Linked DNA regions of Homo sapiens: region 1 is linked to region 2. A link means that fine-mapping ties the variant in region 2 to the expression of a gene that starts in the linked region. Tissue or cell type: whole blood. Region 2 holds a variant in brackets; the other region holds the start of a gene. All regions are shown on one strand. Distances are between the middles of the regions.

Region 1 (8,483 bases), 22 kb before region 2:
TCCTGAGCTCAAGCAATCCTCCCACCTCAGCCTCCCCAAGTGCTGGGATTACAGTCATGAGCCACGATGCCTCGCCTCTTTGTTTTTAGCTTTATGGATTATCAGAGGCATCAAAGAAATAGATCCAGGGCCACACAGTCTCATTAGTTTAAATTATTTCAATGAAAGAAGAAACACTGCACTCAGAAACAAGAATCCTGTATTATTCTATAATATTACAATGTCTCTGGGTCTCCAGTTGCCTAATATGCAGAATGGAGATAGCAATTAATGTACTGGTTTAAAGGCCTGAGTCCAGGGCAGATTATTATAAATTCTCTTCTAGCTCCAAAATTGACAAGGGCAAGAAGACAAGTAACATTTGCCGTTTTATCCACTAGGCACAGAGCTAAAACAAACTTCACCATCAGTTAACACAAAAAGAAACAAACTCAAGGCTTCAGTAATTTGTCCAAGGTTAGACCGTTCACAAGGGATAAAAGCAAGGGTTTGATACCAGGTCCAGTGGATTTCAAAGCTTGGGTTCTTCACAGACACTGACTCACAAGATTCCACAGGATACTAAGGAAATGCTGAAACAACTACAAAGAAGTTGAGCTCTGCTTAAAGATTTGACTGTTTTCCTCAGCTCTTTTTCCCAACTCTCTATTGGAAAGTACCTTTCAATAATTTTTTTTCTTAAGGAAAGTGATTTTCACTGGGAATTAATACCAAATTAGTACAAAAGGCAGCAACATAAGCTTTCAATAAACATGAGTTTTGTAATTTTCTGGCTATATTTTATTATTTTCAAATTCTAATTCCTGGCTAATGAGCTAGCACTTGCCATTTTATATAAAAAGGCAAAGTATGAAATACTATTTCCAAAGCAACGTAAGGATCCAATACTTTCCCACATTTATTCCACCTACTCACCTATTTTATGAGATATATTAATGTGACTTTGTGCAAGATAATTTTTCCACATCTTAATTATCCTACCTGTAAAGCAAAGGGAAGTAGACTACAAATAACATCAATGATTCTGTGTAGAAAGTGAAACTTCATAGGTAATTATTCACTGAACTAGGAAACTGTTAGCAGTTTAGATGTCTCACAACCATCTCAAACTTAACACATTCAAAGAGCTTTCCATTTTCATCATCAATCCGAATCTCCACAGTTTTTCCCATCTCAGTAAATGGCTCACCCCTCCATCCACCCAGTGGCTCAAGCCGGAGAAGCAGGAAGTCATGAATGATTCCATCCTTTCATATTCTGACCACCTCCAATCTATCACAAGGCTAGTGGCCTCTATCTCCCAAATACATCTCAAATCCATCCAAATCTCTCCATCTGCCAAAACCACAAGCCACAGTCATCTCCTGCCTGGCCAACAGTATTACCAGTCTCCCTGTGTCCACTCTAGTCACTTCCAACACATTAATCCCAGCAATGGGCCTTTAAAAATGTACATCCAATTACATCTCACTCTTTTCGGTACACATCTTACTAAATAAACCCTTCAGAAACTTCTTACTTAGAAAATCAACTCATACTAGGCCTTGAGGGTGCCTCACCATCTGCCCCCACCCACTTCTCCAGCAACTCTGCTTGGCTTCTCACCAAGCTTCTGGGCTTTTCCAATCCTCAAAGCTACTAAACCCCTAACAGCACTTGCTGGTCTCCTCTTAGCCTAGAAAGCAATGTCCCATCATTCTCCAGATTTCAACATAAAAATTACTTCCTGAGACCGGGCGCAGTGGCTCACGCCTGTAATCCTAGCACTTTGGGAGGCCGAGGAGGGTGGATCACCTGAGGTGAGGAGTTCGAGACCAGCCTGGCCAACTTGGCGAAACCCCATCTCTACTAAAAATACAAAAATTAGCTGGGTTTGGTGGCGGGCGCCTGTAATCCCAGCTACTCGGGAGACTGAGGCAGGAGAATCTCTTGAAACCGGGAGGCGGAGCTTGCAGTAAACCGAGATCGCACCACTGCACTCCAACCTGAGCGACAGAGCGAGACTCAGTCTTAAAAAAAAAAAAATCACTTCCCTATCCCAAAGTAATTCCCCTGGTGTTCTTTCAGAGGAACTTGGCTGTTTGTTTTTTCTTCGTAGGACTCCTCACAATTTGTCACTTAAATATTTATCGTTGCATCTGTCTATTGTCAATAAAGCCAAAAAGCCTGTAAATAAACCCTTCCGAAACTTATTTAGAAATCCTGAGGGCAGGGACTGCGTTGTTTTCTTCACGCTTGCATACCTGCATCTAGCACAGTAACTAAAAGTAACCCTTCCTAAAACCTAGGTGATGGGTTGACAGGTGCAGCAAATCACCATGGCACACGTTTACCTATGTAACAAACCGGCATATTCTGCACATGTATCCAGGGACTTAAAATTTTAAAGTAGGCCTTCTAATATCTGATGACATGTGGAAGAACATTGCAAGGTTGATTTTTCATCCAACTATGTCAAGACCACGGATAGAGCCTATAAGCTTGCTACATGCCACAAGGATGTCTAATCTTTACAACCATGCACTGCAATAGACATTATGTAGCCCGTTTTGTAGAGGAGGAAACTGAGTTTCTCAGAGGGTAACATGCCATAGTTCCATCGCAGGTGGACTGACTACAAAGCGTGTGCACCGCCGCCCTATAATGCAAAACCACACTCACTGAAGGAAGATTCAATAAGACAGTCCCTGTAACCTGACGGCTTTCCTTCTGAATGTTCTGGCTGGGATTGGCTGCCTCAAAAACACCATTACACTCTGTTAAAATTGCTACAAAGGCTGTTTGGGAGATAAAATCTAAACAAATGAAATCCTAAAACTGCCAATAATAGCAATAAAGCATCAACAATGCTCACAGTTTTGCAGTATGCATTCACGGGCCATACACAGCCTTTAACAAGGTAATTTTCTTACCCCATTTCACTTGACTACATCTTACCTAGTTAAGCAAACTACCTCTTGTATAGTTATACTACCTCTTATGTAGTTAAGGCAAATAGTATTACTTAATATCAGCTGTATACAGCTGCACTTACACACGAGCTTTCTGACAGGTGAACACCAATCTATCTTATTATTAAAAACAAAACAAAAAAATCAAAAACCTCTCAACAAAATTCCACACATATTAAGGAGTATTTTGAAAGGAAGGAGTCCCTTATACTGACCTCCCCGTACTCAATTTAGTAGAATACGCATTCCAATTTCCTAACGCTGGAGATTAGAGAACTATAAGCTACATATTAAAAGCATTTGTAAAAGGCTATTTTCTCAGCTGTGGTAACAAACACTGGCAGAGTCTTAGGCAAAACACACGCCGTTTCGCCCGAGTTAGCCAGCCACTGAGATCGTTACAGTTGGGAAGCAGCGAGCCCAGCAGCAGGGATTTCACGGACCCGGTATCAGGGTTCTCGGGTCCCAGGGGCCGCGGGCCGCAGAGTGGGAGGAGGACCCGGCAGCTGTGGCCACCCGAGGCCCGGACGGCTCCGCTGTCCCACTCGCCGCGACCCGGACGCTTTGGCAGGACCACGTCTGGGGCGTCCCCGCCGGGGGGCCGGGTCAGAGAGCCTCGCCACTTGAATCACCCGACGAGGCGGACAGCTCTACTCACCTCAGCGCCAGCAGAGCCAGCGCTCCGGAGCGCAAGCGGCGCTGGAAGCCAAGCGGGGGACGGCGGGCGGGGCGGGGCAGGGAGCCAGGCGAGGGCGGGGCGGAGCGCCGGGCGTCGGGGGCGGGGCTCCGGGGGTGGAGCGGAACCCGCGCCAGAGGGAGCTGGGGAAGAGGGAGCGGGAGAGGAGCACGGAACCTCGCGATAATCCCCTGTGTTCTCGCGCTTTCACGATAGGCGCGGGAAAATGCTCGTTTGCCAAGCGATCTGTGTATTGGCCGAGAGCGCTACTTCCTCTATGCTGGCCCCGCCCGCGGCTCTACTCTTGCTTCCGGCTCCGGCGTGGGGTTTGATGTCGACGGAGTGGCTTTTGCTTAGCGTCTTGAAGGGGTAATTTAGTCGGCTCCAACTTCGGGAACCGCCAGTTACTGACCTGTTCCTTCATTCATACATTCATTCAGTCACTCGGCTTCTCATTCAGAGCACACGTTGAGGGATTACAACAATGATCCCACGTTGAGCGTTCGTTCTAAGAGCTGTTTATAGATTATCTCGTTGAACCCTTGACAGCAATCCCATGACACAGGGACTAACAGCGCCAGTCTGACCGTTGAAAAACAGGCCAGTGGGTTTATGTAACGAAGCCAACGTTATTTAGCAAGTAGTGAGTCTAAGCACCGGATTTAAGGGGTCACTACGAACTGGTAGATAACAAAGATGAGGAGGACGTAACCTAGTCTCTGCCCTTCAAACACCCAAGGTTTATTTTGAGTAAAGATTGCTAAAAAGGTCAGGAACAATTTAGAGAGTTAAATACAATGACACTTCCTAGCCTGACTGAGTAGGCCGTCAATATGTATTTCTTCAAGACGAAAATTATTATGTCAGCGAAATAGCATGAAAGAGGGCTTTATGCTGTTAAAAATACTTGGAAGCATAGTTCGGAAACATTTTTAAAAGACACTTTTTAAAGTGTCTCATTAATATGACAAATTTCCTTCTGAAATGAAGATTTTAAAGTATAATCCTCTACTACAACCGCTGATATTTTTTGTTCTGTGGAAAGCCTGTCTATGAGTTTGCGAGGCTCCTTGTCAAGGAACTTTAACTTTATAATGAAGTAGTTTTTACAGTTGCTGACTTAATTATTCATAGAGACGAATAACCTAGAAAGCAGAGTTATATTAAATAAAAAACATTGGTTTTAAAACAAGGTATGAGTTATAATAAAAATTATCAGTTATCTATTAAATCTGGTCTTCAAGAGCTATTCAGGTATACAGCATGGTTGGTATATGTCATGTATTTCTAAGATAGTTTCGGAATACCTAAGAATTCGTGGCACTCAGAAATTTTTTGCTGGTCTTAAAATGAGGAAATCCACATTTTGTGTAAAAACAAAGATACGGTGTTTAATGGTCAGCCCAAATAATAAGACTTGCTGCTAATATATGAAGAGTTACACCCCCCAAAAAAGAAAAAAGATTAACAGTAGAACAGTTTTTTGAAAACAATGTTAGCCTCTTAGTTTTCATTTCTTTTTTTTAATGGGGAATACTGTTTTTCAGTGATTAATATCTGATATTTGATCATGAAAAATGAATCATGTTAAAATAACCTTCACCTCCTCCCCACATTGACACAAAAGTTACCAAGTGATTATATTTGATAATACTTTATGACCCCACTCTTGAAGTTCTCACAATTTGTAGAGAATCAATTCGCACGTTTTGTCTCTCTTAAAGGGGAAAAAAATCCTCTAAGCTGGTGATTTCACGTTCTTTGACAAACTTCAATATCAACAGGCAACGATACCACTTTAAGAAAATTCCAAGGAAAAGACCTCATTTTAAAATTCCCACCTCTGGCTCCCAAAGATTGGTTTGCAAACTTCGACAAAATACTCTTCTCCACTCGCTATTGGTGAGTGCTCTATCATTCATTCTTTTGCCTGGAGTTTTGTGAGGTACCCGCTTGCTTTATGGGAAAAGGCTGCTCCGGAACTGCCCTACTTTAGACTTTTTCATGGTTATCAATCTGTACAAAGAATCACCAAACTGATAAAGCAGGAACCAGAGGGCAAATCACGCTGCCAAGACAACTGTGTAATTCGCTCGAAAAAGAAACGGTGAGCCTCTCCAGCAGACTGGGTAAACTGGCAAGGGATTTTACGACATAGTTGGAGATTGGAGAGTTACAGAAACTTTTCCGGTTTTTTACAAGTTTTAAAGGAGTGATTGAGTGTCAAAGGAAAAGCAGAGAAAATACAGGCACAATTTAAAGACAGCAGGAAGAAGAGTGTTCAGAGAGCATTTTTCTCTTTAGGGTGAAGTTTGAAAGCATCATGCCCAGATTATCAGTGGATTTTTGAAAGGTAAAGGAGGCAAGATAATAAGATTAACTATAGATCATTTTCTACTTTAAGAAACTGTGCTTCGTTATTGTTGCTTAAGTGTGGATTTAGAAGGACATTTAGTAATATTGTAATTTTTATATGGATATTTTTGTTTATATATTGTCATACCTGGCATAATAGATAATATATCTATTAAAAGATATAGGAGAAAATAGAGTTGCTTGAACCCAAATTTTGTGTATATTTGTGGATTAGGGATTCCAGGGACAGATCTGCTAATGGCTGAACAAAACATACTACAGATACCTGAAGCAGAATCAGCATGTAAGGGTAAATTCTCAAAAAAATCCAGCAATCATATTTCAAAAATGACATTTTTAATTAAAACAAATACAAAAGAATTTATCAAGGAAACGTTGATGAACATGACTATTTCTTAAGTTGCCTGTGTTAATCCATATAGGGGAATATAAAGTAATAAAATCCAGCCCCTCAAGAGCAGGGACAAATGAGGCTCAGAACATTTAAACTAAAACTTCTGAACAGTTCTTAATGCCCGGATGACTGTTGTAGAGCACAGGTGCTTCAGGAGCTCAGCTCAATGTGAGATGAATTATTCAGAGAAGGCTTCACAGTATGGGTAAGACTCAATTTGGGCCTGAGCAATGGGCAGAATTTCAGAGAGAAAAATAAGGGAAGTGGCATCCCTACTAGTGAGTGAGTTGTTAGCAAATACATGCAGCCTGAGGAAGAGTTGGTTCTGACTGCGGCAGAAGGTTCATTTGGAAACTTTGGTTACAAATTTTAAAAAGCAGCATGAGAAATATAAAGAGCCGGAATTCCCAAAATCAGGGGTTTGGGTCCTGTGTTTGGAACAGGAGGCACCCCTTATGAAAGTAATATTTGAAGACAATAAAACTGACAGTGGAATTTAAGATGGCTAGACCAGAGCAGAGACCAGAAGCTAAGGGGCCCCATGCTGTGTAAATACTGGCACACAGGTTAGTAACCATGCTTCTTACCCGAATACATTTACCTTATCATTGTTGAATAATATAAATTTTGATGCACTTCTTTGTAGTCTTCGAAAGCATTGAGTTTACTTCTTTAAGATTTTTGGGGACCGCTGCCACACTGTCTTGGGGAGTCATGGTTGCCCCGTCTTTATAAAAGTCTTGTCATAATATGTATAAAAACCAGAATTACACATAAAACTGCGTTGTGGTTTCATAGCTATTTTTAACAGCTTTAATGAAGTATAATTTATATATTATAAAGTTCATTTGTCTTAAGGATATAACTCAATGATTGTTTTAGAAAATCACAACCATCACCACATTCCAATTTTAGAAAATTTTCATCATCCTAGAAAATTTAGAAAATTTTCATCATCCTAGAAAATTTAGAAAATTTTCATCATCCTAGAAAATTTAGAAAATTTTCATCATCCTAAAAAAATACTTTGTGCCCATTTGCAGGCAAGTCCTGGTTTCCTATCCCCAGCCCCAATCACTAAAAAACTTTCTGTCTATAAATTTACCTTTTCTGGGCATGTAAGTGGAATTACACATTATGCGATCCTTTGCATCTAGTTTCTTTTACTTAGCATAATGTTTTTGAGGTTCATCCATGTTGTAGTATGTCTCATTACTTCATTCCTTTTTATTGCTAAGTAATAATCCACATTTTATTTAACAGTACCAATTAACAGACATTTGGATTTCTTCTAGTATTTAAATATAGTGTTTAATTGTACTAATTGTAATTGTATTACAGTAAATACAGTACAGTATTTAGCATTATGAATAATGCTGCTATGAAGATGGGTACAAGTTTTTGTATGAACGTGTGTTTTCAGTTTTCTTGGGTGTATATCTACGAGTGGAATTACTGTCATATGGTAACTCTGGGTGTAACTTTTCAAGGTGTTGCACAACTGCTTTCCAAGGTGAATTTCCCATTTTACATTTCCACCAGAGTGTATGAGGGTTCCAATTTGTCCACATCCTCACCAACACTCCTTATGATCTGTCTTATTCATTGTAGTCATTCAGCTGGATTTTAAGTGGTATCTTATTACAGCTTTCATTTGCATTTTCCTGATGACTGACGATATGAAGCATCTTTTCATGTGCTTGTTGACTATCCATATATCTTCTTTTGTAAAATGTCTTTCAAATATTTTGCCTATTTTTTTAATTGAGTTGTCATCTTGTTACTGATTGTTTTTTGGTTTTTTTGGTTTTTGTTTGTTTGTTTGTTTGTTTGAGACTGGGTCTCGCTTTGTCGCTCAGGCTGGAGTGCAGAGTGCCACGATCTCGGCCCACTGCAATGTCCACCTTCCGGGTTCAAGCAATTCTTCTGCCTCAGCCTCCCGAGTAGCTAGGATTACAGGTGCCCACGACCACGCCCAGCTAATTTTTTGTATTTTTAGTAGAGACGGGGCTTCACCATGTTGGCCAGGCAGGTCTCGAACTCCTGAACTCGTGATCCACCTGCCTTGGCCTCCCAAAGTGCTGGG
Region 2 (8,553 bases):
AGTATTTTCCAGGTTCATCATGTTGTCACAAATGACAGGATGCCCTTCTTTTTTAAGGCTGAGTAGTATTCCATTGTGTATACATACCACATTTTCTTTATCCATTCATCTGTTGATAGACATTTACATTAACACCGTATCTTGATCATTGTCAATAATGCTGCAATGAACATGGAGTGCAGGGATCTCTTCAATATACTAATACTGTTCTTTGGATGTATCACCCAGTAGTGGGATTCATGGATCATATGGTAGTTCTGTTTTTAATTTTTGAGAAACTTCCTTACTGTGTTCCATAATTTACATTCCCACCAACAATGTGCAAGGATTCCCTTTTCTCCACATCTTCACCAACATGTATCTTTCTTTTTTTAATCATAGCCATTTTAACAGGTGTAAGATGAAATCTCATGGATATAATTTGCATTTCTCTAATGATAACAATCTTGGGCATTTTTTCATACACCTATTGGGCATTTGTATATCTTTTGAGGAATATCTATCAGGCCCTTTGATCATTTTTTTTTTTTTTGAGATGGAGTCTCACTGTGTCGCCCAGGCTGGAGTGCAGTGGCTTGATCTTGGCTCACTGCAACCTCCGCCTCCCAAGTTCAAGCAATTCTCCTGCCTCAGCCTCCCGAGTAGCTGGGATTACAGGCATGTGCCACCACGCCCAGCTAATTTTCTGTATTTTTGGGAGAGATGGGGTTTCACCATGTTAGCCAGGATGGTCTCCATCTCTTGATCTTGTGATCCGCTCACCTTGGCCTCCCAAAGTGCTGAGATTACAGGTGTGAGCCACCGCGCCCCGCCAAATTTTTCTTTCTTTATATCCTTACTCTATAAGCTTTTTTCTATTTTTAAAATTTTTTATTTTCTTTTTTTACTTTTTAAACTTTTTTGTTAAAACTAAGACACAGGCCAGGCATGGTGGCTCATGCCTGTAATCCCAGCACTTTGGGCGGCCAAGGCGGGTGGATCACCTGAGATCAGGAGTTCCAGAGCAGCCTGACCAACATGGAGAAACCCCGTCTCTACTAAAAATACAAAATTAGCCAGGCATGGTGGCGCATGCCTGTAATCCCACCTACTCAGGAGGCTGAGGCAGGAGAATTGCTTGAACCTGGGGGGTAGAGGTTGCGGTGAGCCAAGATAGAGCCATTGCACTCCAGCCTGGGCAACAACAGTGAAACTCCGTCTCAAAACAAACAAACAAACAGGCCAGGCGCAGTGGCTAATGCCCGTAATCCCAGCACTTTGGGAGGCAGAGGTGGGCAGATCACGAGGTCAGGAGATCGAGACCATCCTGGCTAACACGGTGAAACCCTATCTCTACTAAAAATACAAAAAAATAGCCGGGTATGGTGGCGGGCGCCTGTAGTCCCAGCTACTCAGGAGGCTGAGGCAGGAGAATGGTGTGAACCCGGGAGGCGGAGCTTGCAGTGAGCCGAGATCGTGCCAACTGCACTCCAGCCTGGGCAACAGAGCGAGACTTCGTCTCAAAAAAAAACAAAATTAAGACACAAACACACACATTAATGTAGGTCTACACAGTCAGGATCATCAATATCACTGCCTTCCACCTCCATGTCTTGTCCCACTGGAGGGTCTTCAGTGGCAGTAACATGCATGGAGCTTTCATCACCTATGATGATAATGGAATACCTTCTTTTGGAATAGCTCTTGAAGGACCTGCCTGAGGCTTTTCTACAGTTAACTTTTAGAAATGTATAAGTAGAAGGAGTACCCTCTAAAATAAGTATAAAATGTAGTATATTAAATATATAAACCAGTAACAGTCATTTATCAACTATTATCACATATTGTGTACTGTACATAATTGTATATGCTTTACTTTTATATGGCTAGCAGCACAATAGGTTTGTTTGCACCAGCATTACCACCAACACATGAGTCAATGCATTACGCTATGATGTTACGACAGCTACTGTATCACTACCCAGTAGGAATTCTTCAGCTGCACTGTAATTTTATGGGACTACCTTTATGTATGCAGTCATTGACTGAAATGCTGTGGAGCTGGACATGATTGTAATATGGAAGCAGCCTTACACATTTGCCCATGTACGTACCATTTCCAAGGTCGTCTGTTTTGTAGAACTAGAGTTCCATTTGCTATCATTTTCCTTCCTTCTGAAAGACTTCCTTTTACATTTCTTTGAGAACATTGTAGTGCAAGTCTTCTGGCGATTAATTATTTAAAATTTTGTTTTCAAAAGGTATTTTCACCAGTACGGAATTTAAGGTTGACAACTTTTTTCTTTCCATACTTTAAAGATAAGAAGTATCTTTAACTCTCTCCTTGTTTGCTTTTTATTCCCCTAAGAAATCTGTTATCATCTTTATCTTTATTTTTTATACGTAATGTGTCTTTTTTCTCTACTTTTGAGATTTTTGCTTTATCATAGTTTTAAGCAATTTGTTTATGATGTTTTGACTTTATTTGGTATAGTTTTCTTCATGTTTCTTGCGTTTAGTGTTCATTGAGCTTCTTGGATCTCTGGCTTTATGCTTTTTCTTAAATTTGGAAAAATATTGGCCATTATTTCTTCAAATATGTTTTCTGTCCCTCCTCTAGTCTGCTTTTCTTTAGGGACTCAAATGACATATATATTAGGCAACTTGAAGTTGTTTTACAGCCCACTGATTTTTTTTCATTTTTGATAATTTTTATTGCTATGTCTACAAATTCATCTTTTCATCTGCAGTATCTTATCTGCCATTAATCCCACACATTTTCATCTTCACACATAATTTTTCTATCTAGAAGTTCCATTTGGGTCTTTTTTATTTCTTCCATGTCTTTATTTAACTTTTTAAACATATAGAATACAATTATTGTAATTGTTTTAATGTTTTTATCTGCTAATTTAACATCTGTGTCAATTCTGGGTCAGTTTTGATTGATTATTCTCATTATGGGCCATGTTTTCCTGCTTCTTTGGATGCTTGGTAATCTTTGGATGCTAGACTTTGTGAATTTTACCTCGTTAGGTGTTGGTTATTTTAGTATTCCTATGAACATCCTTGAGTATTATCCTCTAGTGCAATTAAGTCCCTTGAAAACAGTTTGATCCTTTTAGGTCTTACTTTTTTGATCTGTGTGGTGATCTGAGCAGTGTTCAGTCTAGAGCTAATTATCGCCTCTACTGAGATGAAAGGCTTCTGAGTACTCTAACTATCTAATGCCTCATGAATTAGAAATTTTTTCAGTCTGGTTGGTGGGAACAGGCGCCAGCCTTACGTTAGCACAAAACACTGTTCCCTGTAACCTTATTGAAGGATTCTTTCTCCAGACTAAAATACTTTTCTTACACACATGCTAATCAGTATTCTGTCCCTATACTTGAGGGTGTCCCTCTGCTAATATCTTGGTTCCTCTGTCTCTGGAGCCTTCTCCTCTTCAGTAATTTGTCCTGTCAGTTCTAGTCACCTTGGTCTCCCCAAACTCTCAACTCTACTTCCTCAACTCAGGTAGTCCACTGGGATAACTTCTGGGTCCCCTCTTCCCTGTGCTGTTTCCTGGAAACTCTCTCAAAGCAATAAACTGGGGTGATTTATTTTTTCCATCTCTCAGGAATTGCTCTCTCATTGCTTGTCTTGTTTCTTGAAACCGTTGTTTTATCCTTTGTTCTGTGGGCTGCTTATCTGTTTGTTTTGGGTTATTTCAGGCAAGAGGATAAATGTAGTTACTAGACTTCATCTTGGCCAGAAGCAAAAGTTGTAACAACAATTATTTATTTTCTACCTCAGGGTCAATTGGGCTTCAGCTGATTTAATCTGGGGTCATTGAGAGCTGTTTGGGCTAAGCTAATTTCTACTGGACTTTAGATATATATATATATATGTACATGCAAATACATATGTATGTGCTAGGCTAATTTCTACTGGACTTTATATATATATGTACATACAAATACATATGTATGTGCTAGGCTAATTTCTACTGGACTTTACGTATGTATGTATGTGTGTAATACATACACATATACATGTATGTATGTGTGTTTATATACATGTGTATGTATGTGTGTATATGTATGTAGGCATATATATATGTATGTCTATATACATAAAGAAAGAAGGTTTAATTTAGTTGAAAGTAGAAATCAGCAGGTCAGTAGTAGCCACCATAATCTTTTGGGATATAATGCTACTAATTTCAAAGAAATTATGGGTATAGTGTTGAAATGTATATTTCTAAAAGTAACTATGGAAATTATCATTTAACATCTTTGTTTTTTATTTTAAAATTAGAAGACAATGTATATAAAAATATGCAAGAATCACAGGAAACCCACATATCCAACCACCTAGATGAAGTTGTTGCTGCTGTTAGCATCACTCATAGAAAGAAGTTCCAAAACAAGCTGCTTCAGACAGCACTATTCCAGCCTCCTCGAGAGAAACTCCACCTCTGTGAAGAGAAAGCAAAGTCCTATTCCAACAGTCATGAGGTAAGGAGACTTTTGTTTCTGTATTTCTACTCTGAGAATTGAGCTATATGGTATAATCAAGAGAAGTAGAATGTTTTGGATTACATTCCTAATCT[C/A]AGCAGTTTGATACAAGAAAGTATATAAGACAGTGCCTTTGTTATAACATGAATGAATGCAGTACCTCTAGGCTCCAAGCACAGCAGTTCGCATGGCCAACAACAAATATTTGTTGAGCTCGCACTGTGTGCCAAGTCTAGGCATTGGGATACAACACAAACAAAGCAGATGCAGCTTCTGCTCTCATAGAGCTTGTAATTCCTTATAATCTCAAATCTTGTTCTCTGCATGCTTCTTTCCCATTCTTTCCTCAAAAGTTTTACTCATTCACTAACTCATTCAGTAGGCATTTCTCTATCACCTCTTATATGTTGGGTCCTCTTCATCCAGTCATCATAAATATCTATTGTATGACTAATATGTGCCAGGTGCAATGTAGGTGCCAGGGGCACAGAAGGAAAAGCCACAGTCTTTGTCTTGGAGGGACTCGGGATTTGGTTGGGAAGATAGACGGGGGACAGATAATGGTAGTCAGGTTGATGAGTTCTGTGAGAGCTCGAGTGACATAGATGCAAAACACGAAGGGGTGGACAGTGAGCCTGGAGGTGGTAGAGGGACAGCAGTTAAGGCACACTTTCTTCGGATGGGAGTTACGTAGACTGCACTGGTAAACAGTGCTTAGGAGTTGGACAGGTGAGGAAGAGGACCAAATGTTCTGGACAGAGGTAGCAGATGGACAAGAGCCAATGGTCTGAGGGAGTGCAGTCTGTCTGGGGAACTGTAAGGAGCTGTCTGGGACTAATGTGTTAGTGACACAGGGCAAGAAATGAAGCTGGATTATGGGCAGGAACTGAGGCCCAGAGGGCACTCAAGGCCTAGTGAAAGAGTTTTGATTTTCTCCTAAAGATGATGGAGGATTACCATGAGGTTATAAGCAGAAGCATGCCATGAGCAGGTCTGATTTTAAGAACAGTCACTCCCATAGCTGTGAAGGGTATGGACAAAAAAAGAGTAAAACTGGAAAAGGAGCATCAGTTAGGAGGATATTTGCAGTAATCCTGGCAAGTAATTATGAGGACCTGAACTACGTGTGGCAGAGACAATAGAAATGCTGAGCTCTTTTGAAAGGAATTTAGAAATGCAAATCAGTGGGACAGGACTGGATGACTGAGGGGACATAGGGAATGGAGATGTGAGAGTGAGAAAGATGGGGTGTGTAGAATTCCCACCACCCAAGGTCTGAGTCTGCTTGGGTGATTGGAGACTTGTCCATGACCTTCATCAGTATAACAAATACAGGAGAAAGACCAGGATTATAGAGAAAGAGCATAAATTTGGTTTTGAGGTTGTGCTTGTTCATTATGCAACAGATACTCACTCAGAACCTACTATTTGTAGGCTCTAGGCTGGCAGCCTTTCTCAAACAGACTTCTGCAAAAGAATTAAGCCCTCATGCCCAAAGGCATTTAACAAATGTAAAGAATTAACTTCTTTTCTGTGTAACTAGAATGGTATTAAACATTTCGTTGTTCTGTGGTTCTGGTGAAGAATCCAGCATACAATGGTGAACAGGACAGACAAGGTGCATACCCTGATGGACCTGAGAGGCAATCAACATTGTAAATGAACCGGATTATTATAGACTGTGATAAGTGCTAAGGAGGACATAGAGTGGCTCCGTCTTGGGTAGGGTGATCAGGGAGGGCCTCCAGGAAGACGTGACAGATAAGCTGAGACCTGAGGAAGAGAAGAGCCAGTGTGGAGGAGCTGAGGGAAAGGAGTTCCAGGGAGAGGAAACAGCACACATAAATCTACAGGGTAGGCACAAGCAGGACATATCTGAAGCAAGGAGAAGAAGCTGCAAGCTGACATTAAATATAGTGAGAGAGGCTGTCAGTTCACTTAGGGCCTTGCAGGTTTCAAGCTAAGTGCCCTGGAAGGCCTTAAAAATATTTTCAGCATGGTATTAACATGACGTAATTTACTTTTTAAAATATCAGTTTTTTAGTAATTTTGTATTTTAAAATAATTTCTGACTTACAGAAAAGGCACAAGATTCACTCATTTTTAACATTTGCTTTATTGCTTTGTTCTCTGACTCTAATTGTTTTTCTGAACTGAGAGTAAGTTATAGATATTATGGCCCTTTACCCCCAAATTCTTCAGTGTTTATTCCCTAAGAATAAAGCTATTCCCTTACATGGCCACAGTACAGTGATCGTAATTAGGAAATTAATGTCAGTATAATACTATTATCTAATCTGTAAACCTTGTTTATATTTCTTCTTAATAATGTCCTTTACAGAAAACAATCAGACCCATGGTTCAGTCTGTGAATTCATGTTAAATAGAGTTGTCATGTCTCTTTAGTCTCCTTTAATCTGAAACAATTGCTTAACCTACTTTGTTTTTCATGATCTTGATATCTTGGAAATATATACTCTAATTGTTTTGTAGAATATCTCTCTGTTTGAGTTCGTCTTATGCTTCCTCATGATTCTATTCAGATTGTACATTTGGAGCAGGACTACCACAGGTGTGACATGGGGCGCTCCTTAGTGCGTCCTGTCAGGAGGTGCAGAATGTCTGTTTGTCTTCGTACAGTGATGCCAACCTTGAACACTTGGTTAAGGTGCTGTCTGGCAGGTTTCTTTACTGCAGAATTGCCATTTTTCCCTTTGTAATTAATAAGTATTTTGTGGGTAGATTCACTGAGACTATGTATATATTTAAAACTTCACTCTGCCACCTGAATCAGTTATTACTATGATGTTTGTCACATAGCCAGTCTCTGACTTCCACATTATTTCAACATTTGTTTGTTGGCATTCTATTATAAGGAAGAGCTTTTCTTTCTTCACAGCTTATTTATCATTCATTTATTCCTATCAGTATGGGTTCAGGAAATTGTATTTTTCAAATACACTACAACCTGTTATTTTCATGGAAGCTCGGATTGTTCCGTATCTGCCAGTGAGAGACCCTTCCAGCTGGCTCCTGAGTCCTCAATGCATCCCCTTACGGTTTAACCACTTCCTGGCGCTACCACTTGCTGGTAAATCATCTCGACTTTCCAGCCTTAGACTCCTTCATCTTTAAACTGAGGGGACCAGGTGAGATGATTTCCAAGGTTCCTCCCAGTTTTGAAATTGCCTTCCTACTTCGTGCTTGTCTTCTGTCTGCCCCTTACTGATGCCTATTGCTAAAGTCACTGGAACTGGTAGAATAAAGGTTGGAAAACCAATAGGGATATTTGGACCATGCCTTGTAACAAATAAGGACGTGAAGGAAGGACAAGCTGTTTCTTGTATACCTCTATCCCTACTCAGGTCCTGAGAACCAAGGCTATTATCAGGGAAGCCCAACTCAGCCTGCACCGTCCTCTTCGCTGGAAATCTGTAGTTGGGACAGATTCACTATCAAAACAGATCTACCTCTCTTTTTGTCTGTCTGGATTCCATGATGTTGTCATCATTTCCGTGTCTTTCATACACTGTAGTTGTTGTTCTCTTTCTCTCTCTCCAAAGTAGTCATTCCCTAAACTTCCTGTGTCTAGAGGCAATAAAAAGGTGATTCCCAAAAGAAGTACAAACAGCCAGTTAACACATGAAGATGCTCAGCCTCATCAATTTGGGAGAAAAATGTGGACTAAATCAAGGAGAAATGGGCTAACTGACAAACTGACAAACTAAAAACCAAACAAAAACTCCACAATTTGTACTCAGTTCAACGTAAGGGGCATTTCTGCTCACATGTGCTGCGCTGAAAGTATGAACTGGTACAACCTCTGGGAGAGGCACTTCAATAGCTACTCACAGCCTCAGAATTTTGCATATCCTTTATACAGCAATCCCATTTGTGGGAATTTGTTTTGTGGAAATGTTTATGGGTATGTGCAAAGCTATCCATACAGGATATTCAGTGAGTAAGAAATTTACAAACAGCTAAATGCCCAATAAAGAGTGGATTGAGTAATGCAGTTATGATATAGTCATATAATAAAATACTGTGCAGCCATTCAAACTTATATCATAGAAGA

The links.
Region 1: LRRC28 starts here. The variant in region 2 is fine-mapped to the expression of LRRC28 in whole blood (TOPMed, PIP 0.93).

What each region holds. Positions count from the first base shown.
Region 1 is chr15:99,246,668-99,255,150 of GRCh38, reverse strand. LRRC28 (leucine rich repeat containing 28) reads right to left here and starts at 3,670. Exons shown (of 10, transcript NM_144598.5): 1 at 3,610-3,670. It overlaps TTC23 (tetratricopeptide repeat domain 23), which reads left to right and starts at 5,570. Exons shown (of 14, transcript NM_001288615.3): 1 at 5,570-5,980. RefSeq lists a silencer at 3,356-3,895 and an enhancer at 4,146-4,195.
Region 2 is chr15:99,224,458-99,233,010 of GRCh38, reverse strand. TTC23 (tetratricopeptide repeat domain 23) reads left to right here. Exons shown (of 14, transcript NM_001288615.3): 5 at 4,279-4,478. The coding sequence starts at 4,299. Among named protein-coding and RNA genes, the nearest start is that of TTC23, 21 kb to the left of the region's middle. The variant C/A (reference allele first, on the strand shown) is at 4,574.